Homo sapiens: one gene and its partners. The protein of the gene in region 1 interacts with the protein of each later gene in a biochemical or structural test. Each region holds a gene or a part of one and is shown on either strand. Other genes may lie near its edges. The genes, in order: MAGEA11, EGLN1, PCF11 and SUV39H2.

What was found.
Region 2: the proteins of MAGEA11 (region 1) and EGLN1 form a complex in vitro, tested with the Homo sapiens proteins (one study listed by BioGRID).
Region 3: the proteins of MAGEA11 (region 1) and PCF11 form a complex in vitro, tested with the Homo sapiens proteins (2 studies listed by BioGRID, with this or other methods).
Region 4: the proteins of MAGEA11 (region 1) and SUV39H2 form a complex in vitro, tested with the Homo sapiens proteins (one study listed by BioGRID).

Annotation. Positions count from the first base shown.
Region 1 is NC_000023.11:149,715,043-149,717,790, reverse strand, and holds the end of MAGEA11 (melanoma-associated antigen 11), read right to left. Parts: intron 2,188-2,748; coding exon 2,114-2,187; intron 2,039-2,113; coding exon 1,015-2,038; 3' UTR 523-1,014; downstream 1-522. UniProt on the Homo sapiens protein: Acts as androgen receptor coregulator that increases androgen receptor activity by modulating the receptors interdomain interaction. May play a role in embryonal development and tumor transformation or aspects of tumor progression.
Region 2 is NC_000001.11:231,363,249-231,370,287, forward strand, and holds the end of EGLN1 (egl nine homolog 1), read right to left. Parts: intron 6,596-7,039; exon of another isoform or gene 6,306-6,595; intron 4,389-6,305; coding exon 4,321-4,388; exon of another isoform or gene 4,319-4,320; intron 3,228-4,318; coding exon 3,163-3,227; 3' UTR 508-3,162; downstream 1-507. UniProt on the Homo sapiens protein: Cellular oxygen sensor that catalyzes, under normoxic conditions, the post-translational formation of 4-hydroxyproline in hypoxia-inducible factor (HIF) alpha proteins.
Region 3 is NC_000011.10:83,160,129-83,167,167, reverse strand, and holds part of PCF11 (pre-mRNA cleavage complex 2 protein Pcf11), read right to left. Parts: intron 5,842-7,039; coding exon 5,716-5,841; intron 3,490-5,715; coding exon 3,301-3,489; intron 2,962-3,300; coding exon 2,767-2,961; intron 1,569-2,766; coding exon 454-1,568; intron 44-453; coding exon 1-43. UniProt on the Homo sapiens protein: Component of pre-mRNA cleavage complex II, which promotes transcription termination by RNA polymerase II.
Region 4 is NC_000010.11:14,874,402-14,881,883, reverse strand, and holds the start of SUV39H2 (histone-lysine N-methyltransferase SUV39H2), read right to left. Parts: upstream 3,019-7,482; 5' UTR 2,996-3,018; coding exon 2,965-2,995; exon of another isoform or gene 2,351-2,964; intron 385-2,350; coding exon 239-384; intron 1-238. UniProt on the Homo sapiens protein: Histone methyltransferase that specifically trimethylates 'Lys-9' of histone H3 using monomethylated H3 'Lys-9' as substrate.

The DNA of each region.
Region 1 (2,748 bases):
GTACCACGTCCACAGTGTCCTTCTTTTGGCCACTTGAGAGACATTATGCAGTACTGAGAAAACAAATGAATTAAGGGACAGAGGTGTACTTCAGGCTGCAAAGAGTGAGAATAGAATGGGCTCTAGATGAATTCAGGCCAACCTTGTGGTTTACCAGTGATATGATCTTGGGAAAGTTACCAAGCACCATGAGACTCAGGTTCATCCAGAAAATGGGTTTGATAGACCATTTTTTTAGGACTGTTGTAATGTATAAAATGTATTAAAACACCTGGGATGATGCCTGGCATGTACTGGATATTTAATGATTGACAGCTATTTCTAGTATTACTGTGACCCCAGGTGCTACCACTCTCTACTTTGGAATATTTTTTATTGTCCAGGACATCTCAGAGAATCTGCAACTCAGTAGGAAACTGCATTTCCTTGGTGAATATGTATGTGGGGGGAGGGGGGTGTACATGTGTGTATGGGTGTGTACTTTCATAGAACAACAGATTAATATGGATAAGAAGACAAGAATTAATGACCTTCTCCTTTTATTTCTCTGTTTCACAACACCAGTTCAGCTTTATTGTTAAGTTCTTACATTCTCCAAGAAAATACCTATTGCAAATCACAGCAAGATGGAAGATTTCCCAAAATGTTTTACAAAATGGCAAACACTTGCACTTGAAATGGATAAGCAAAACAACATGTGTGGTCAGTATCATCCATACACTTAGATGTTGAAGCTAACTAAAACTTTTATTACAGGAACAATATTTGAAAATTACCAAAGGGAAACAAAAAGAAATCTCCAAGTCACCCGATGGAAGAGAAACCTAAAGGCAGTATACAATGTGTTCCCTTCCATTCACTGTGCCTTCTACTACTGAGAACACTGACTTCTCTCATCAAACACAGAGGGAAGAATGGGCCTGATTTCACACAGGACAGGGAAACTGCTGGGTGTGGCCCTGAAGCATGCATTGGCCCATTTCCCTGCCCGCTGGCCCTGGTTGCATCTCATGCTCAGACTCCCTCTCCCTCCTCTCTCAAAGCATCTTCATACAGGGATGGGTAAGAAGTGGGATCCCTCCCATTGGCATTGGCTATGTACTCAAGAACTTTCATCTTGCTGGTCTCAGCGTGGGCCCTTGGACCCCACAGGAACTCATAGCATGCAGGATCAGTGCCGGGCACCTGCCGGTACACCAGGTACTTTTCCTGCACCCAATTTTGGGTAAGGAGCCTCTTGGGCTCCCCAAAGAGGAAGTGCTCCCTTCCAGCATACACCCCCATAATGCTCAGGACTTCCCACATAACCTCTTCAGGGATGCAGTTCCCCTCCATGAAGATTACACCCAGGACTATTATCAGGAGGCCAGACTTGGGCATGCTCTGCTCATTACACTGTATGCCATCATAAGAGAGGTTGAGGGAGGTGACAAGGACATAGGAGTGGCTAGTGGGGTCCACTTCCTTCACATCAATGCCAAAGAGCAGTTGCATGCATACAGAGGCTTCCCTAAATATCTCAGGAAAGTAGTCCTCATAATTTTTGATGACACTCCCCAGCATTTCTGCCTTTGTGATCAGCCCCTTGACTCGATACTTGCGGAGCAATAAATGAACCAAATCAATTATCTTGTCATGTAGTATATCTTGGGAAAAGGACTCAGGGTCTATCAGGTCAGGCGAGGTACTTGGCCCCTCCTTTTCTTGGCTGCCAGAGCCCTCATCAGATAGGCTCCCAAAGATGGCATCCATGGCAGTGGGAGAGAAGGACTCTTCCTGAGGACTCTGGGGAGGACTTGGTGACTCAGCAGCAGGCAACTCCTCTAGAGTGCCCACATTCAGAGTAGAGGAGAAGAAGGCAGCCTCCTGCTCCTCAGCTTGGAGAGCCTGTGCACCCACCAGGCCCAGGTCTTCTTCTTGGGCCTGAAGGCCTTCCTCAGGCTTGCAGTGCTGACTTCTTTGCTCAAGAGGCATGATGACTCTGGTTAGGTCAGCAGGCCGAACTGTGGGAAATATCTGGGTGATGGGGCCCCACAGCCTGGGGAGAGAGGGAGCGTGAGAACAGACTCAGATGAGATATGAACCATGGAGAATCTAACAAAGGCCTACTTACACTTGTTCTCCTCCAGTGATCCTCTGGGTTCTCCTGGGACTCCTGTCCTCCAGGTTGGCCTGTTCTCTAAAAACCTGAAAAAGGAAGTGAGAAGGCTGCTCAAGATGCAGCTGGACATCAGAGCAGGAGGCTCCAGGACTGAGGTAGGGCAGGTGAGGTTGCAAGCTGGGGGTCCCTTTCTGTACTGGGGCAGGTGGGGCCATTTGTAGATTAAGGGTGAACATCTCATCTTGACTACTGGCACTGCCTAGGCTTCCTGTGTTCTGAGATCTGAAGACATTGCTTGAGACCAAGGCCTCACTGCTCAGTTTTTGGAGCTTCTAGAAGAGGAATCATGGGGCCATCAGGCTGCAGACTGCAAGCACCCATCCTGGCACCCCAGCACTGTCAGAAAGGTGGGCCAAACTCTGTGAGTTTCTCACTTTTTTGGAGTGGATGGTCCCCTCTGTGCTCAGGGCCCTCACCTTTCTCCTGCCAGGGCCTGGAAGACACAGCTCTCCTGACCTGAGAAACTCTCAGATCAATAGCTCTTTCCTGATATGAAAGAGGACATGTGGGGATACACATCTGGCCACATGTACACAGGGCTACCCAGGAAGGACAGCAAGAGATGGTGACAGTCAGCAGGGTCCATG
Region 2 (7,039 bases), on another chromosome or scaffold:
AACAAAACACTGTGGAAAATTTTTCTTTAAATAACAGATATATAAACAGGTATTTTGATCTCACCTTAATAAGAGCTCTCATATTTTAGTTATGACCACACAAATTAAACCTTCTTGCATATACACAATGGTACATCTATGACAATTAGAGATAAATGCCTAACCCCACTTCCTTTTGCAGCAGAGGGGTGATACAGATCTGTCAACAGCTATGAATGTTAAAATAATTTTAAAAATCCTACTAAAAGGGCAAGAATTCAAGTGCTGAGAATCCAAACAGACTTCATGGATCCCACAGACAGTCCAATGACCCCAGGGATGTTTCTAAAATTGTTGAACTCCTATGTTTACTGTTCTCTTTCCTTCATTATCATTTACAAAAAGTTATAACAAATGTCCTAGACTAAGCCAGAAAAGCTTTATCTGATGAAAGGGATCATTCGGAAAGCCAATGTATGATAAAGGATTGAAAAACAAAAAAGACAGCTGGAAATAACCACCATAATGTTTCAACAACATTTATACATCTTTTTAATTAGATTAGCTTTACAAGCAACTTGAGAGCTCTTTCATAATGAAACACTGCTTTTCAAATTACATGACTTTATAGTCTATCTGTATATGAATCCTGAAAATCTTTGCCTACTCTTGATAAAGGTCTGTGTTTTACAGCTGGTTAATGTGTTGAATAAAAACAGCATTATGAAGCTTTATCTTTAACCAGGATTAAACACATATAGGCCACAAACAGTTTTAAATTTTGTTTGAAATAGAGTCCTGCTTGGTGACAAGTTAATAGTCCCACTAACATGAAATGAATGGATATTAAATAAATGGCCATCCTGATTTCTTGATCTTTTCACAATGATTCCTAAGAGAGTATATAAACTTTTCCAAAAAATATACAATTTAAGACCTGTCTGGCAAGCACAACCCACAGATAGTAGAATCTAATACTTTTTACAACTGTAGAGGTACACATTTGAATGACAACAGGGGCTCCCAAATTAAAAGGCTGTGGCTGTACATTTTGACAATCAAACAAACCTCCCATCAACATAAAACAATTTCTACTAACCCTAAAAAAGATAATGCTTTTGAGTTGTGGCCTAACGCCGCGCACTGTACTATAGACCAGATGGCAAAGACAACTTGCGCTCCTGGGTTGGGCTGGCAGAGGCACTTACTGTAGAGATGTGATGTTATCATCTGGAAGGAAGGGGAGGAAGTAGAACAAAACTGAATATGGGCGAGGAAAAAACAATAAACTATCACTTTCTCCTGCAAATTCTCCTAAGTGAGATCACTATACTGAACATTCAATCCCATCCTAAGTCCACTGTTGGCTTCACTACACAATTTTTTTCCATGTTTTACATGAATAGCAATGGCAATCTTTTAATAAAAATTACTGAGCTTCCCATAGAAAAGGTCTCAAATTGAATACAAACTATACAGATGCTAAAAATGTCTTAAGTTGAAATATACAGAAAATTTCTGTATACTCACATTTTGGCAAAGAAGATCAAGGACAGAGATAGAAAACCTAAGTGGGCAAGGTCTTACACCCATAATTCACGCAAAATATGGATACCACCCTTTAGGTTTTGCTAAAAAGCCTAGGAAAGTGAAGTCTAAGACATCCGTCCCAATTCATTCTTTAAATAACATGTATGTGAGGCCTTGTGTGATTTTCTAATATTCCTTCCTTGTTTAAAAAGTAAATAAGAAAACCCATGAAACAAAATAAAATTATCTGATTTTGCATCTGTTTTGTTTTTTTCTAAGCTAAGCATCTTTCAGTACAGGTAAGAAGGCTGGCATCACATCTGGGAAATGCCTTAACAGATATCTGAGGAGTTACTGCACATTCCGTCAGTAACACCACACTTCAGTTTCAATGTGTACATAATCTCCCCTTGATGCTCTTCAACAGAGACAAGGTTCTTGTCTGCAGATCAGATAGATCACAGTATTAGGAAAAAAACATAACAGCAAATTTGGAAGTACAATCAATTTAAGGAGAAGCAAAAGGAAAAGACTTAGAAATGGGACATTATTGTCTACATCTAGAGGATACATACACCTGAAAGCTTAAGAAAGCCCTTATCTTAGGAACTTGAAGCTGAGGATAATCTCAAGTTCACTTAGTGCCAGTCACTTTAGTTTTTTAAAAAATTTAACTTAAACCCCAGCCTAGGCAACATGGCAAAACCCCGTCTCTACTAAACATACAAAAATTAGTCAGGCATGGTGGTGTGTGCCTGCAGTCCCAGCTAGTTGGGAGGCTGAGGTGGGAGGATTGCTTGAACCTGGGAGGCGGAGGTTGCAGTGAGCCAAGAATGCACCACTCCCCTCCAGCCTGGGTAACAGAGCAAGACTGTCTCAAAAAAACAAAACAAAACAAAAAAATTTAAACTCTTCTTGTGTCTTTTTCCTTGTAAAACATTAACTAAAAGTTATTGGTAGTAAATGGTGACTGTTTTACAATTAGGTTTCGTTATTGACAATGTCAAAAAAAAAGCAGCAATCTTTAACAGTTCAAATTAGTGTAAGGAAGGACTACAAAACAATCTGATTTTTCAGTTGTAATTAAAGTGCTCCTTTTCTTATTTTAAGTAAAATAAAATTAATCATCAGTCACTGGCAACAATCATTATTAAGAGGTCTTTTAGGGCAAAATTTAATAGTATGAACAGGTTTACAAAAATAGATTGATGTTATTTTGAGGAATAATACTGTAATTTTTTCTCAATTCAGTTTAGATAAATTGTACCTAATATAGAAAAATTATCCCAAATTCAAACTTGATATAAAAAAGGGAGAGATGAAATGAACTCAGCTAGATAACAGATCTGGCAAAATATAAGAATGAAAAAAATTCTACACAGGGCACTTATTTCATATCCAGATGTAAAAACCATTTTCAATTAGTAGCTTATCTTCCTCCTGTAAGCAATCACAGATTTGAAGTTGATCATGCAGTACAAAGTCACAGCAGTCAAAATCTTCTGTTTGATGCAACACAAAAAGTTGTTTCTGTTTCCTTATTAAAATGCGAACTGGTTGTCTATTTTTCTTTATCCCATTTATTCGTATTCACAAGTTAACAAATAGTTAACAATATTGTAGGTGAAGTGGGGTATTGCTGGATCAAAGGCTCTAGAAGACGTCTTTACCGACCGAATCTGAAGGTTTATTGAGTTCAACCCTCACACCTTTTTCACCTGCAAGGTAAAAAAAAAAAAAATTTTCATTCATTCACTAAGCACCAGAGAGCTTCTGCTACTGCATTCCACTGAATTCCTAAGAGTATGGACAATATTTCAACTTTGCAAACATCATCTGAGAACTATCACGCTTGTACTTCCAAAAACTTCCCTCAGCATTCTATTGTGATGAGGTTTCAAATAGTAAACCTTCAAGGATAAAACCATCCTCTACACAGAGATAATGATTTTGTCTTTTTATTTTAAAAGCCATTTGAGTTTCTTCAACAGAGTGTTCAGTGTCTCTGAAAGCACACTGAGCTTGTGCCACAAATAATGGCTTTAAAAATACATAGAAAATGCATGAATATTCCATTTTTATGTAAGGTCGACGTGCGATTAGCAATGGCTCTGGAAAACACAGCTAATCAGTAATGTGAATACTCAGTGGATTTTTGGAGATAGAAAGTAGAGTTAAAGAAAAGAAGGTAAGTGGTCCATCAGATGGGAAACAGACCCCCTGCTCTTGGAGAGGCAGTCCATAAGTGGAAGAGAAGGGGAACTGGCATAATTAAAGGATCTTCAGGTTCAGTACAAGAGTGCTGACCTATGTACACCATTAGCAGATATGGAATCTACATGTCTGTGTCATTTACTGATTTTGGCATTTGAATTCATAATTCTTTGTATTAATTTTCTTCATGTCTACATTTAACATGGAAGACCTAGAGTACTGTTTAGAGCACATCCATTTGAAAAGGAAAGGGTATTAATTTAAGGAGTGAATGAGAGGAAACCATATGGCCGTTACCTAGAGTTAAGTGGCCTTTGACTGAAAAGGATAATCACAGAAAACTCAGTTTGTATGTGAATAATTTACTCAGACTTCTTTGCCTCAAATTTTCCACATCCTTTGACAATTTTTTTGGTTAAAGATAACAGTGAAGATGACTTATGTCTTCTTAAAAAATGAGGCAAATAAGAAATCTGATAAAAAACAAAAAGTAAGTATTCATGGTGTTAACAAAGACTATGCTTGAGTTTCCTGAAAGCATCACCTGATTGCAGGGTATTTCTGTACCAATATATCCTGGCCCCAAATGACGTTTACCTGTTAGATATTTTACTTTAGCTCGTGCTCTCTCATCTGCATCAAAATACCAAACAGTTATTGCGTACCTAAAAGAAAATTTAGAATAGGATAAGAATGATCACACTGCGGGGAAAAAGTGGTATTTTGCTGCAATGGTATATTAAAACTTGTAATGCCAAAATTATGCCTAAACTGGAATGATATCAAAGGATAAATTTAACAGCTTATTTATACAGTAACCAGGGGAGACTAAAATTGATGTCTGAAGTTGATGAGTTTTTGTGACTTTCTTAATACTTATTTCAACTACTTATTTTTTGCAAGGGAACTGCAGATCAGAAAGAGACAATAGGCCGGGCACAGTGGCTCACGCCTGTAATCCCAGCACTTCGGGAGGCCGAAGTGGGTGGATCATGAAGTCAGGACTTCGAGACCAACCTGGCCAATAGGGTGAAACCCCATCTCTACTAAAAAAAAGAAAAAAAAAATTAGCCGTGCATGGTGGCACATGCCTGTAGCCCTAGCTACTCAGGAGGCTGAGAGGCAGGAGAATCGCTTGAACCCGGGGAGGCGGAGGTTGCAGTGAGCCGAGATCATGCCACTGCACTCCAGCCTAGGTGACAGAGTGAGCCTCCCTCTAAAAAAAAAGAGAGACAATAAAAGGGTAAAAGAATGGCTGTTACAGAAAAAGCACATTATCAATAGCACAAGTACTAAAAGAACAGAAAAGAAACAGATAAAAGGACTCAGGGCATTGCAGGCTAACAGTTTCAACAGTCTCTGGGGACATCACTACATTATAGCAAAGAGTAATGATGGATGTTTACAATTATAACCTTGACAGTTAAATTATGCTAAGAATTTTTAAGGATTTTAATCAAAGCAATTATACTGTGTTTTGTGTTTAAACTTTGTCTAAACTTCATTTTTCTGAAAATCTGACTTAGAATATTTCATTCCACCAATAAGTGAGGCATCTCTAGTTTATTAAATACTACAAAAGACATACTTTCTGATACAAATAATGGGGAAAATGTATAAACGCTATAGGAAGTGAAAGTACGCTACAAATCACCAGTTCCTGGGCAGAATATAGCAATTAGTTCAAATATATTGTGGATTGTGGCCAGTGGACACAGGGGAAAAGGCAACATTTATCAGACATACAGCCAGTAATATGACAGAATGAAAAATCACATAATGTATTTTGAAGTAAAGAGTCTGGGAGTTTGGACAACTGGGAGCCTGACGTTTACAGACCCCACCACTGGTGAATCACAGAGCTGAGGTCTAAGGAGGTCTCCTGACTTCCAGACCAGACTCTGCTCTTTCCAGAGTTCCACTACCTTTCTTACCATGTGGCTTCTTCTACTTTTGGGTGGCCTTGGAAATAGGAAAGGGCTCAGATACATAATTTTATGTATCTTTTGCCCATGCCCTAAACTTTTAGTCACTTAGCAATCAGAATTCTAATATCTGGATCAACAACTTACCTTATGTCATTCTAACTTTCCAGCCTTATCACCCATTCTAGATAAGATCAGAATAGGATTCTACTTCAAGAATCCTTTTCGTCGCATGATTTTCCATGCCTTAACTTGAACAACTACGCCTTTTCCCCCAGAACTTTACTAACACGACTGCACCCCTTGCCTCTCCTCACCTAGGCCAGCTGAGCCTCTCCCTTCAAAGCGCACTTGCCCGTCTCTCCAATGTAGCACCACCTTCGTTCCTCAACTCCTGTAGCACTTAGCCTCCATGCCATCTGGCATTTATTTACTATAAACTCCCAAGTATCTGTTATTTATTCATCTAAAAAGGACGTAACCAAACCAAACTCAGGATTTCATAAAAAGGAAGGTCTATGAGGCAGTTACTGTGTCAGAAAATCTTTACAGAAGCAGCAGGGGGCAGAGACAGCACTGGGATGCCACTGGGAAGAGACATGGGATTGAAAAGGGCACATCATGTGATGTGACAGTCTTTCTTTGGTTTCCATTCAGGATTTCTTACAATCTCCAGCTACAACCTGCTTAGCTTGCTACTCAGTACGTGAATTAGGATGCAGGCAACACACCTCAGAAGGCAGGAAGAAAAAAGGCACAGCTGATAATCAAGTCGTTAGAGTCAACCATCATTACTAAAGCCAACTCTCCACCCAGCGCATCTAAGCCTGTGCCTCTTCTTGCCACCCTAGCATCTCCTAAGCCAGATACAGCAAATGAATGCCGGAAGCTCACTATCAGAATGTTCCAAGACCTTTCCATAATAAAAAATAAGTATTTTTTTTTAATGTGCTATTTTTCTACAAATATTTACTTTCATGATAATGTCTACAATATCTTGTTTTCACAGCCAGAGCATTTTAATTGAGTCAGGATAAATGGTTTTTAAAAAAGCATTTGAAATAAAGCACTAAATATAATAGGTTGCAAATACCTTGTAGAAAAAGTATAATGAAACAGATGCTCATTATTTGTAAAGCTAATAGGATCATTTTTCTAACATTAACTCCCACACATGGTAACCTGTTCTCTACTTTTCTTTCTTCTGTTTTTCTCTTCACTTCTACTCTCTGGTTACCTCTGATTTTTCTACTCTGTATCCATTTTCCTATGTTGTCCCTCACCACCTTTTAAAAAACCCTTTTCCTTCTTGATCTTTCTCTCTCCCAAGTAAAATACTCTTACAAAAATCAAAGCATGGATAGTAGTTAAGAGATGCACAAAGCACGGAG
Region 3 (7,039 bases), on another chromosome or scaffold:
CCTCAGATGAGGAGGTTTACTATGTTCATCAACCTGTTGTAAGCTGAAACCATAAAAGCAGTATGTTACATTGAAATGTTTTTTTAAAAAATACTCAGGACCATATTTAAAGATTCTTTTCAAAGGATATGGTTAAAATGGGCATATGTAACCACAAAAAGTAATTAAATAAATGATTAAGAGCACAAAATATGAAATCAGCAAAAACAGATATGAATTCTGATTCTTGCATGTCCTGGACTGCAGCCTTAGGTAGATTAGTTAACCTTTCTAAACTTCAGTTTCCTTATCTGTAAAATAGAAATAATAATAGTATTTAACCCACAGAGATGTAAGAATTAGATGGAAAAAAAGTACTAATAGCACCTAATAAACATTTTCCAATTTTTAAATTAACACTATCTTTTGAAACATATACACTACTACACTTGACTTAAAATGTTAACATCATACCTTTTATTTTCTTCCCAACCAGATTTCCATCTTTTGGCAGACTTGGAACTTTGCCAGTTTTCTACATTCTCCTTTGGTTCAGTGCCTGACTTTGTAGAATGCTGATTTGTAGTTTCTTGTGGTCGCTCCTCTTCAGTCTTTTTCATTCGCCTTGGATCCCGAATATCCTGTTTAGTACTTCTCTTAGCATTTCTGTCTTCCCTAGAAGGTGGTGTAAACTCTTCCATATGTGACTGCTTAGCTCCAGATTGGCGAATCTTTCCAGCTTTAGGTGTCGATGTTGGAGACATACTTCTTTGCCTTCGTTTGGGTGACCGCCTATCTCTTCTCTTTGGGGAATGTATAATTGGTGACCTAGACTTGGGTGATCGAGATCTTGATCGCTTTCTAGTACTCGATCTCCCTGGTTTTGTCCCCTGTTTTTCTGACTCTTCTGTTATTGTATCCTGTTTTTGTACAATGCCATTTATGATTTTATTTCTACTTCCAGCCAGTCTGTGTTCGGATGACTTCATGTGCTCATCTTTATCCTTTTTTTCTGCAGTTTTTCTCTTCTCTTTCACATCATCATCTTTGCCATCGGTCTTATCCTGAAGATGTTTTTTTAATCTTGGATCTCTCTTGTTCATATCAGACAACCTCATACTTTCCGATTCTTGATTTTTCAAGTCTTTTGTGTGAGATAATTTGTTTTTCAAAGGTGAGGGTGATTTCGATTTCGATTTCGATTTAGAATCTAATTGGTCAAGTTCTTTCTTGGTTATTTTTTCACCTGATTTACTTTTTTCTTGCTTGGATGAATTTAGTTTTTCAGAGGGTATAGTTTTACTTGTCTTAGTATCAGACTGGTTTAATGTGTTCATTAGAAATTCTTTCCTGTGACTCTGATCTTTTCCATGAGAATGTTGGCTTATCCTGTTCAGACGAGGATCCCGGTTAGTTCCTTTTAAATCCTGAATTTGTAAGGATGGTCCTGGACGGCTTTTCTCAGATTGCACAGGAACCTGATGAGGAGCTTTAACTGCCATAGGGGGAATCTGTGAAACATGTAATTTGGATGGTGCAGATCCAGGACCTAAATTGGATGTTTCCTGCTGAACACTAAGAGAAACTGCCTAAAACACAAAATAAATGTTCATGTTAACACTGCAGAACATGCAGATTGTCAAGAAATTGCAAACAACTGAAGAAGATAATGCTTTATTCAATAAATATATTTACTCAACACTACATTTAAATTGTACACTTATAATGTATAAATTGAGATTACAATGAAAAGAAAAAGTCCATGATTTAAGTTGCCCATTATTTCTTACTAGTATTTTTTGAGACTTTATAATATAATCTCTAAATAGAATGAAAAAAAATTGTTTCTCTTCCTTATTGTTCAGGATTCTGAGCCATACTGCTCCTAAGAAATTGCTAAATCACTACACTCCGGCTGCACAAGAATCAGAGTCATTTCAGCTAAATTCTAAGTCCTAAAATTTAGTTTCTCCCAAAGTGGTGCTATTAATGAACTTATAAAATTCTGCCTTCCTGCACCTCACTGTCGAATAAGCTCAGATGCTAAGCAAAATAACTTAGTATAAAGTCATTTATGTGTAGAAAGATATAATCTTCCTGGCCTCCTTAATTTTGTCATTTCTGTTCATGGAGCATAAGCTCATAAAACATTAAAGACTATGCAAAAATATTTGCCACAACATGCCTACCATCTTGGGACTGAAATATTAAGTCCACATAATGTAATGATTAAACAAAATTAAGATGCTATTTTATAAGATAGCAATCTAACAGAAAACTGTTTGGAGGAAATAGTGTAGTTTTGTAGTTTTTGGAGGGTTTTCTTGAGACAGGGTCTTGATCTGTCACTCAAGCTAGAGTGCAGTGAAGCAATCATAGCACACTGCAGCCGCAAGTGATCCTTCCAACTCAGCCTCTCGAGTAGCTGGGATCACAAGGATGCACTACCCCACCTGGCTAATTTTTTTTTTTTTGGTAGGGCCTCACTATGTTGCCCAGGCTGGCCTCAAACTCCTAAACTCAAGCGATCCTCCCACCTCAGACTTCCCAAGTGTTGGGATTACAGGCATGATCCACTGCGCCTGGCCTATGCAGTTTTTAATCAAGTGAATTTTACAATAAAGATATAAAAGTATAGTCTAATAAATATACTCATTTGTAAAATAAAAGTGAAAAAAGAGTACACTATTAATAAAAGTAACATGTTAATAAAATTCAAACATAAACATTACTTCCCTATTGTTAGACAGGTTTAAAATATTTAAAATGACAATCTCCCTTACTTACCAACTGTGCCTTAGCTTGCTCTAGCTCAAGCTCCAGCTTTTTCTGCTGAAGTTCTAACAACTGTTTTTGCTTTGCCAGTAACTGCTGCCTTATTAGTTGTTCTTGTGTAAGATTCTTTTGTATATCAGGAACAATTGGAGGAGTGGAGATGCTAGGGGAACTGACCACTGTACCAGGTGTTGAAGGCTCCTCGGGCTATAAGAAAAGACAATTTGTTTAAGAAAAACGTATCAGCTAAAACGGAAGCTAGGGAGTAAAAATTATCAGCTTAACTCTTAATATGATCCAAATTCCTATCACACAGAAAACTTATCAGAAATTTAAAACCCAAAATAAATGTTACATAATACCTAAACAAGGTGAATATATTTCTAAATAAAAATTCCAAACATATACACACTATTTTTTTTTTTTTCAAATTGAACCAATTCACTACCGAGTATTCTATTTTGACTTTCTGGCAGTAAGTTCTGCAGAAGAATTCAAAATGTGATACTTAAAAGTATGTTACTTACTATTCATATTAAAACTTACCGATTTATTTAAAAATTTAGGATTCACATGGATGCTAGACGTATTCACATTGGGGGGTAGAGGTTTAATAGGCCAAGCAGGATCTAATGAATTGACTCTGACATCCAGGGCATAAAGTTTCTTCAAAGGGAATATTTCATCCCATGTAGAACGTAACTTAAATAAACTTTTCCTAGTATTTTCATCCACCTAGAACAACAGAACAATTCTATGGCTTGTTAAGTTACTATAGAATATTTTATATATTAAATATAAGTTATATAAATCTGCTCTACTTCACATACAGAACTGTACTACCCATTGGTAAGTATATACAACAGTAATAATTTATTAAAGGTGCATTTCTCCTTCAAAAACAGAGTAATTAAAACCATTTTCACCTAGCCTTCATGCAAGCAACCAACCAGGTGAGCCTTTCTATATACAAAACGTTTCCACATCTTAGAGCTTAGTATAATATTCCTAAAGTTACTCTTTCTCTGGGAAAAAAAAATGTAAGACAACTAGAAAATATAAAACTAAAAAATATAAAACAACTAGAAAAATTGATTACCTGATGGCTTAAATGTTTTAAATTATTTACATAGTAGTACAAAGTTAAAATTAAAGCAAAACTATCTCACTAACTAATGCTCAGCAATACTATATGGTTGGGTACATAGGAACAAGATATTGTGGTGTGGAAAGCACTTTAACAACTGAAATTCACAAAATCTTAACCACTGATAAGCCTTAGTTTTAAATAACTTTTCTGTTCAGGTTTGTGATGGCGTAAAAATGTTTAGAAAATTTGCCATTGCCAGGCACGGTGGCTCACGCCTGTAATTCCAACACTTTGAGAGGCCGAGGCAGGTGGATCACCTGAGGGAGTTCAAGACCAGCCTGACCAACAATGGTGAAACCCCGTCTTTACTAAAAATACAAAATTAGCCAGGCATGATGGCTCATGCCTGTAATCCCAGCTACTCGGGAGGCTGAGGCAGGAGAATCACTTGAATCCGGGAGGCGGAGGTTGCAGTGAGCCGAGATTGTGCCATTGCACTCCAGCTTGGGCAACAAGAGCAAAACTCCATCTCAAAACAAAAAAAAGAAAAAGAAAGAAAATTCGCCATCAAGAAACCTAGGACTTGGGAAAACTGAGTTAGATTTTCAACATTAGGATAGACAGTAAAGCCTTAACTATATTCATAAGTCTTCAGATAATAATGTATTTATTACAAGGTCATTTTAATCAACTGTCATGTTAATGCCCAGTTAGATTCAGTAAAGGTATGCTACCAAACACCCAAGTGAATTTGAACATACTGAAACCGAAACCAAGAGGTTGGTTAAGCTTCTCCTTAAGACTACAGCCTCTGGTTAGCAGTATTCAGCAAATGTCTACAATATTCTATTAACAAGCATTTTAATGCTATATGATATAGAGCTTTCCAGATTTCTTCTGCATATACTGTTTTTCTCTAAGAACTTAAAAACATTTCTCAAATAGCAACTACTTATTTTCTAATAAACATGTAAAATCTAATACTGAATAGTTCTTCCAAAAAAAATTCCAATTCTACAAATCTGACAACTGACACACAGGTGTTCATCTACTAAAATATAATAACTACCACCAAATATTGACGTTAGGAAACAATCTTTAAACCTAAGTATCTCATAAGTGCCTTTTTGTTCAATGTGAAAGATATAGCCTGACAGGCAGAGAATTACCTCAGCAAATCCCTTGTCCTCCTCAACATAATACTGCTTTAACCAAACCACCATGTTACAGTGTTATGGAAGAAATTTACAATCTCTAGATATGAAAAATAAGCCTAATTTCTGAACACTAAGGTAGGGGCAAAAGTATTTCCAGAATAACCAACAGCAATTAACTGGTCCACCATTCACACATACCAACAACATTCACCTAAAACATACCTTGAACAATGTAACAAAAGTAAACATTTCCAGAAAACAAAACAAAAAAACACACAAGTTTCAGGAACCAATCACAGGTTGAGACACTGAGGGATTATGCTTTTTACCCCCCCAAGAGAACAGTCAACATCCTAACACCAGAAATGTAAACAATGAAATTTTAATTACTCTTGACGATTTCAGATCTTTTTGCCTGGTTTGTAAGTGATGAAACAGATGTTCAAATGAACACACTCAATTTTTTTAAAAAGCACAATTCTAAAAGCAAATCCATCTATTCTTAAATGGATAATGTAAACCCCTAGAATCTGTTCTAAAAATCTAACATAAAACATTAACTTCAGCCTCTTTCTTTGAAATGGTACTAACGATAAATGTCCAAAAGTATAAAACATTTCACCACCCAAGAAAACCCAACACAAAGCAAATATTTATTTAATCAGGAACACATTTTTTAAAAAAAAACGCAAATGTTTCTAAATGCATATGTACCTTTTCAAACACACAAATAAATGTTGCAACTAGATTTTTAGTAAAGGCAGTGAGATACTCTCTTCCAACGTTTTTCACAATAGAATCCATAAGGTACATAACAGGAAGCTTCTCTGAGGAAGGAGCCTGAATAAAAAGAAACTGAGAAGTTTAGTATAATGAATTACCACCAAATAATTATTTAAAAATGAGTTTTTAAACCTACAATACAGACCTCTATTTTTGTTGATACTAAATATTTTTGAAGTAATCTTTATGAAACTTAAGTGTTCAATCAAGCTCTCAACTCTCACAATCCTTAGTTGAGCACAAAAAAGCTCAGAATTACCAGGATGAACAACAGCTGTAATCCCTAATATACTCATTTAACACTCAATGAAATTTCAAGTTCATGTGGTAAAAAGACCTGTGTTTTAAGTGACAAAAATAAGGAGGAGGCGAGGGAAAATTACTTTATATAATCCAAGTGTCAGTTTTGTGACCCATATTAACTTACAACGGTGTGCCTACACTCAAAGCAGTTTTTAGACCTCTTGTAGAAACTAATTTCCATGGGCATATTTTATATGTTCAAGTCTATGAAGCTTTTGTTACCTGTAAAATCATTAGGATTACTTCTCTATAATCCAAATGAACAAAAATTAAAAACACTTCACCTAGGAAGTCAATGGCAAAACACTGAAACTTGCACACGAACATGCAGGAAGTTGCAAGTTTGTTACTCAGACAAGAAAAACTGGATGGAGCAGCCGCTGAATCATGTAAATCAGGTTGAACTTGACTCTGGAAACCAGGATTTGTCCTGAAGATTTTCTTCACAGCCTGGACTCTCCGCCGAGATATTTTCCTCTGACATGCACAAACCAGGGGTTATAAATTTGTGCAGAGCCAGTGTGGTGATGCTGATACAGGTGGCCCTTTCCAAAGTAAAGAAATGTTGCCCCAGTTCAACTGCAATGCCTACCCACCACTGGCTTTTAGAAGGCACAGCAAGCTTCCAGAAAGCATCAGCAGGTTCACAGACTTGTTGAGGAGCATTAAGACACACCATAATAGTTTTAACTCTGACTCCAAAGGAGCACCCATGATTTAAAATAAAAAAAAAAGACAAAAAAAAAAAAAAAAAAAAAACTTAGGTTATCCCCATTTACCCACCCCACGTGTATAGGAATCTTAACCCTAAGTAACACTTACCCATAGCTGCCTGAAGCTAGGGTAGGCTCACAGTTCTGGAGTACACAATGCCATCATATATAATAAAACCAATTGCCCATACAAGTGTGTGGAAATGCTCTTGCTTCTGATAACACCTTTACAACCAAAA
Region 4 (7,482 bases), on another chromosome or scaffold:
AGAGTTGGATGTAGAGGGATATGAGCACCTGAAAATATTCTAATGCAAGAACACTTTATGCTTCAAAATCCTCTCAATGCTATTTGGCAACACAGATGATAGGACATATAAATTTATCATGCCTTAGAATTTTAAACATTAAGAAGAGCTTTTCTTTTAATGTTCTTTTTATGTTACAGAAATACGAAATACTGAAGTCTGATTAGGTCTCTTGTAAGGGGCTAGATATTTGCCTTACCTTTACTACCTTGTAGTCACACAAGTATTCCACCTCATAATTGTTTAGATTCCTTTTGGTGATTCCAATCGATTTACATGTGAGCTTTTCTTTTCTACATAATTCCTGAAGAGTATCAAGTGAAACTAGGCAAGGCACACACCAAGCTACAATAAGAAAATAGAATTCTTTACTAATGAAATAGCTATTCAATTAAAACAAAAAAGAGAAACTTAAAACCTCTATTCCCCATCTTTCAACTGGCAATTTTAGACTAAAAATTCCTATGACAAGAAACCAGTTACATGTCTTCAAGAAAAAGTTAAACATTAAGGAACTATTTTGTTAAATTGGTGTTCTTGGATTTTCTCATGGATTTCTATTCCACTACGTTTAACTGACATCAGTTAATTTCCATTAAGTCACTTGAAAATGTTTCATGTCTGTAAGCTTTTTTAAGATTATATACAGATGCAGGTCAACAGAGATAATGTTTTTCACTTTCATTGTATTCTACATAGACTACAATCACTATTTTAATAAAATGTAAATCTCTAGGACACTTATTCTTAAAAACATATCTAAAATATACTTTAAAACAATCTTATAATTTGTTAACACGTAACTTTCATTTTTTTTAACTGGACAAAACGAACTGAAATCTAATTAAAATATATTTCTACGGTTACAAACTCATTATATGTTAGTTTTCTCTTTGATATGTTGCATGAAGCTTTAATTCCACTTATTATTCTACCCATACTGCAATATATTATCACCAAGGTGAATAAACTCCAGTTATTAAAAAAATGGAGTATATCGATATTTTGTAATACTTATGGACTGTACTGTTTTTAAAGCCAAACTTTTAAAACGGTGTTCAATTTACATAAGCCATGTACTAAACTCAAAGAAAATTAGACATACTCATCATCAACCCTCCAGAAACCAGAAACTAATTGCGTTCCAGAAGATTTCACCCTCAAATTTCTGTAAGCAGCATGTTACCACACTGAATTTAAAGTGTAAATTAACACGTTTAGGAAAATGGAACAAACTTGTTGTTAGGGCTAGTGTCATGGTAAGCACTTGACAAAATCAAAAGTCCTCTGCACTACCCATCGCTCGGTCACCGAGCTATGTGACTTTAGTGAGGTCTCAATCTTTTTGGCTGTCAGATTCACTGGAAAAAAATGGAGAAAACTGGTGTTACCAAACAAAATCTATCAGTAAACTCAAGCTTTACTTGGTAGCTCTCCAAGGTAGTTGCGATCACCTTTTGCGTTTTGAGGTAATTTCAGGGAAGGGAGAACACTTGTTAGTGGCAATAACTTTTCCGGCCCCTTTCCTCATCCTCCCCACCTCACACAGAAACTTCATTGTCAGAAACCCTTAAGCATAATTTCTACCATCTCACTGGCTGCAAACGATTCCATCCTAAAGCAGTAAAGACAAAGGTATTTTCCTCCAGAAAACGTGGGGGAAGAGGCTGATTGGCTTTGTAGTGGTCGTTTGGGGGTAGGACAGTGATGGGAAAGAAATGACCCCCTAAGTCCCTTCCATCTACAAAAACTAGAGAACGTTTTGTGTTAAGCTGACCTCATTAAGGGAATCACGTATAAAGGAGGTTCCTCTTATCTACTCAAGGTGTGTTTGTGTGCTTTTCCTAAACATTTTTATCTAGTTGAGGATTCAAAACACAACCCGCAAAGGAAATGCTCTTTGAAAATTAAAAAAAAAAAAAAAGTGAACATGAAAAACTGCAAACACGTGGTTAAAAAAAGAAAGACAATCTCTCGACAGTCTCCAGTAATGCAGAAAAAGATTTCACTGACAAAATTAAATAGTTCATGACCACCACAAACACCTTCCGCTGGTTCACAGTAACCCCTGACATTCTCCAAGGAGAAAAATTCAGGGATAATGAGGTCATAATCCCAGCGGAGAGGAGACGAGCTTGAAAACACCTTTACATTCCGGAACGCACGGAAAAGTTCCAGGCTCTCAAAGCGTGCGCGACACCAACACCCCCCGACGCCCACACCCACGCGCGCTCGGTGCCCAGTTCCCCGGTGCCCAATTCCCCAGCGTCCACAGAAATAACACCAAGCTCCCGGTGGGTGAAAGAGTTACCGTAAGCCAGAGGCTGCAACCTCAAATACCCACTTTCTGGGCGATTCTCCAACGAGGCACTCAACCTCCTAGCGTGTCCGCCTTGGGGGGGATTCCTCGCTTATCCCCTTTCTTAGCACACAGGCGCCCCGATTTACTCTCCCCCTCTGATATTAAGGTCATGTTCACGCCGGCGGGCGTCGCTTCCCGCCTCCCACTTCAAAGGCCCGGGCGCATGCCGCACGCCGCGCTCGAACCACCACAAAGGAGCCAGTCGCAGCCGTGCCCCCCGGACCTCCAACCGGGGACTGCCGGGGAGCGGCCTCGAAGCCCGAGGCCGCCACGGGAGACGCGGAGGGGGCCGGGCCGAGCGGGCGGAGAGGCCACGCTCCACTTCCGAAGTGCCCCAGGCTCGGACAGTGCCCACCTCCGCGGCGGGAGCCGGCCGGGCAGGGAGGCGGGTCAGCGGCCTGGGGGAGGATAGGCGTCCGCAGCGTGCGTCCCGGAGTTGGGGTCGCGGCGGGCGGGGAACCGCCACGTCGCCATCTGGCTGGCCCGCGGGACGGCCCCGCCGCCCGGGCCTTGGGAGCTTGCCTGGGAACAGGGAAGGCGAGGGGGCCGCGCTCCAGCCTCACCTCCTCGCGCCTCGGCCCCGACCGCCGCCATCTTGTAGAGCTTTCATTCAAACTGGCGCGGTCTGACGGGATAGCTCAGCTGGCCCGACGCCCCGCCCCTGGCCGGCCCGCGCGGGACTTGGGGGCCGGGGCTTGTTGGGGGACGGAACCCGCACGGCGTCCTGACGTCACTGGCGGCCGACCCCCCGCCGCGGCGGCCAGCGCGCCTGCGCCCCAAAGCTAGGCCCGGCCCCAAGCGCGAGGAGCGGGGCGGGGCGAGCGCGCGTGCTCCCGGATCCTCGGCAGTGTCCGGCGCCCCCTTCCCTTCGCCAGGCCCGTTTGGCGCCTTCACTCGGGAAGACGTCGGCCAGGACTTTGCGCTTTGGAGACGTCTTACTTCGGCAGCACTCGCACACTGCGAGATCCGACACGGGCAGCGGGGACCTAGGGAGCCGGGGACGCTGCCTGTCGGGTACGGTTCCGCAGCTACCGCAGCCCCGTGGGCCATGGTTAGTCTCCCCCCGACACCGCTCCCTCTAGAGCTCCGGGCTTCGGAAGCGGCTGCACGTGGGCATGGCTGGAGAGGTTCCGCTGGCTTGGGGCAGTCGCCGGGATTCCGACTGGTTGGTGTGGGGTGTGGCCTGTGCTATCCAGCTCCCAGCTGATCCTAATGTGCGGCACAGCGGAAACCACCGGTCCACATCAGTGCTTCTCACTTAAAGGGGCTTACGAATCGTCGGGGGTGGGGGAGCTGGACTTGGAATTTTTTAAGAGATGAGGTCTCACTCTGTCACCCAGGCTGGAGTGCAGTGGCGCGATTACGGCTCACTGCAGACTAGACCTCCTGGGCTCAACTTTAATGTAAATTGGGATTGGGTAGGTCTGTAAGGGGACCCGAGCTCCCCTCCCATGTTGTTGCCAAGCTCCTGAGCTCGGCCTGGTGGCGGGTGGGGGCCGGGAGGAGAAGGACACGTTAGTAAGGAAGCTGCAGGACGACTCCAGGGGCCTCCCACCTGGTCTCCACCCCCCTCCCCCACCCATTCTTGACGCTGCATCCATGATTGTTCTAAACAACCTAAAGCAGAAATCTTAGAGCAAATAACGAAAACTGGCAGAAGGCCATTTGATATCTCCTTAAAAAATTCATGTAAAAAATTACATAAACGTTTCAAAGCAGTATGTATAAATTTGAAATACTGGAAATGAACGCAGACCATTAAAGGAATAGTTAATTATTTGATTCCATTATGAAATACTGTCTAGCCGTCTTAAAAAGGTGTTCATGAAGCTTTTAGTATTCAGCAAAACCAAAACAAATCCCCCTGAAATATAGTTTTAACTATGGAAGAAAAAAATGTATAGGAAAATAACGAAATAGCCTTTTCGGAGTGATTTTCTTTTTAACTTCTCGTTTTTAAATATTTAATCATTTTCTACGATGGGAAACACCACTTCCTCACACACACTCATGCTCCCAGACTTTATTTAGCTACAAACGGCATCATAATACAAATACTGTTCTGCAGTCCGTGTGTGTTTCAATGCAACTGCATTTCTCAGACATGTTTCTAAGATTTGAGTCCTTAGTAAATTTTGTATTCCATATCTCATTACCTTGAGATAAGGAATAAAAGGCCCTGTCCAACCCTGTCACCTGGAAGAGCATCCAGGCCCTTTAAGGCTTAGTCTATCTAGGATTATGCCTTCAGACTTGGATACAGCCTCCCGTCCTAACCGGCCCCTGTATTCATTACCTCTCCTGTATGTTTTCAGAGCCCACCAAGGAGCGGCCATCGCTACTCACTGGCCACTCTTGAATCCTTTTTGGCTCCTTTTCCTCAGTCCAACCTGGGTTCCTCAGAGAAGAGACTGTAGTCCTGGGACTGCATTTCTTTTCCGCCCTCTCCCTATGTGACTGCCCCAATTCCCATGGATTTAAATAGCATCTTGACACACAAGATGCCTCACTTATCGTCTCCGGCCCTGGCCTCTGCCTGAATTCCAGGCTAGAATATCCACAGTGCGTAATGGACATATGCCCTTAGGTGTTGCACAAACATCTCAAATTGAACATATCCGGAAAAATACACTTCTGAACTTCGTAGCATTCAGAATAAAACTCAAACCTCCAGATGGCCGGCAGGGCCTCCAGTGATGGGAATCCTGTCTCACCTCACTTGGTGCCACTCTCCCCTTTACTCATTTTCCTGGCCTTTCCCCGGCCCCACTTACCCAGAAATCTTTTACTGTGCATCTCCTATGTGCCAGGCACCTGATAGGTGCTGGGAATATAGCAGTGGATGAGAAAGAAAAAAGACCCAGTCCTCATGGAGCTGACTTCCTAGTGACAGGAGCAGCGGATAAAGCAAATCACTGAAGGCAGCTGGAAATTACTTTCCGGTTAAGAGGACAGGCTCCTTCCCCTCCTCACATGGCTACCTTCAGATCACTTGGGTCTCAGCTTAAACACCACCTATTGACAGAGGCCTCGCATGTTACCTCATTCTTTAGCCCTACTTTGCATCCTTAAAAAGCACTCATCAAAATTTGCAATTATCTTGTCGGGTTTTTGTTCTTTGGTCTTGATTCATAATGAATGCATCGCACTATTTTGTAAATCCAGTGTTTCGTTTCGTGTCTTGAATCCCATCCATTCCAGCGCATAGATGAGGCCCTGTCTGTTCAACATTCATCACCGTGTTTACTATCTAGAGCAGCAATTCTCAAAGTATGGTAATTGGGACCCGAAGACTCTTCACAGGGTTCATGAGCGCAAAACTATTTTCAGACCAACATGTTCTCTGCCTTCCTTCGCTCATGAGTACATAGTGGAATTTTCTAGAGGTTACACAATTTGAATATTGCAACACATTGAACGAAGACGCAGGTACCAGAACATAGCTATCTCCTATTAAGCCAGACATTAAAGAGATTTGAAAAAATACAAAATACTGCTTTTGGCTAGGCAAAGTGGCTCGCACGTATAATCTTGGCACTTTGGGAGGCTGAGGAATTGCTAGAGACCAGCCAGGGCAACCCTACTAAAAAATTAGCTGGGCGTGGTGGCACATGCCTGGGGTCCCAGCTACTCAGGAAGCTGAGGTGGGAGGATCGCTTGAGCCCAGGAGTTTGAGGGTGTAGTGAGCTATGATCAAACCACTACATTGCAGCCTGGGCAACAGAGCAAGACCCTGTCTCAAGACAAAAAACAAAAAATAAAACCCCAGATACCACCCTTGCCACTAATTTTTTGTCTTAGAAAAATTATTTCTCATAAAAAATTAACTTTATTACTTAGAAATAATTTTTAAAATTGGTTTTAATTTCCATATGGTAACTATAGTTATATAACTACATTTTATGTATATGTAACAAACAAAAGCTCTATGGGTTCTCAACATGTTATTTTTTAAGACTATAAAGGGTTCCTGGGACTAAAATGTTTGAGGGTGTTGGTAAATCCTGGCTATAAATGGAGAGAGAAATAAAAAGCCACTGAGAGACACACACCAGGGTCCTCAAGGGAAAAGTAGAGAATCATGACCCTTTCCCAGTATTTTTTTCACAAAGACCACATGATTTCTGGAGTGTCTCCTCTTCTACTGAAATAAACGTTCTCTTCTGAGAGGCAAAGAATCATAGAATGAACACTAGATTAAGAATGTGAATTTAAATGAAATAATCCATGTAATGTGCTTAAAATAGTAAGCAGTCAAGAAAAATTAAGTTTACAAAATAAGCATCTGAATGTTAGTTCAAAATCCACCATTTATTCACTGTGAGACCTTGGATACTTTATTTAACTGCTGTGAATCTATTATCTGGAAAACAGAAATAACCAAGGCCATATTACTCTCTACATAGTACAACTACTCGTGGAATTGTGATGAGATCAAAATTTTAAAATGAGATAATGAATTAAAGCAAATAACAGTATTATATGGTCACTCATTATCATTTTAGATATTGTGATTTTTCCCATAGAACTTTTATGCTAGGATACTTTTAAGAATTCTTATACATATAAAAGCTTTCAGTTTGTGATGAATATTTTGTGACCTCCTGTTAAGGACTGAACGTTTTCATCTCTGAAAAATTCCAGTGTTGAAATCCTCGCCCCCAAAGTGATTATATTGGGAGGTGGGGCCTTTGGGAGGTGATTAAATCATGAAGGTGGAGGCTGCATGCATGGGATTGACACCCTTACAAGAGGGACCCTTCAGAGCTCTCTCGCCCTCTATCCTCCGTGTGAGGTTATAAGGATAGCTGGCAACCCAAAAGGGAGCCCTCATCAGAACCCGGCCCCGCTTCCAGCCTGGTCCAGCACCCGAACTGACTTCCAGCCTCCAGAACTATGATACATTTCTGATGTTTACAAGCCACCCCCCAGACTATGGTACTTTATTATAGCAGTCCAAACTAAGACACGTTCCAAGACTTTCACATCATAGGTATTTCTTCCTATTTTTATATTTGGCTCTGTTCTTCAGACAATGTCAGATGTAAATAGGCAAAACTATAATTTGACATAAGCTTTTA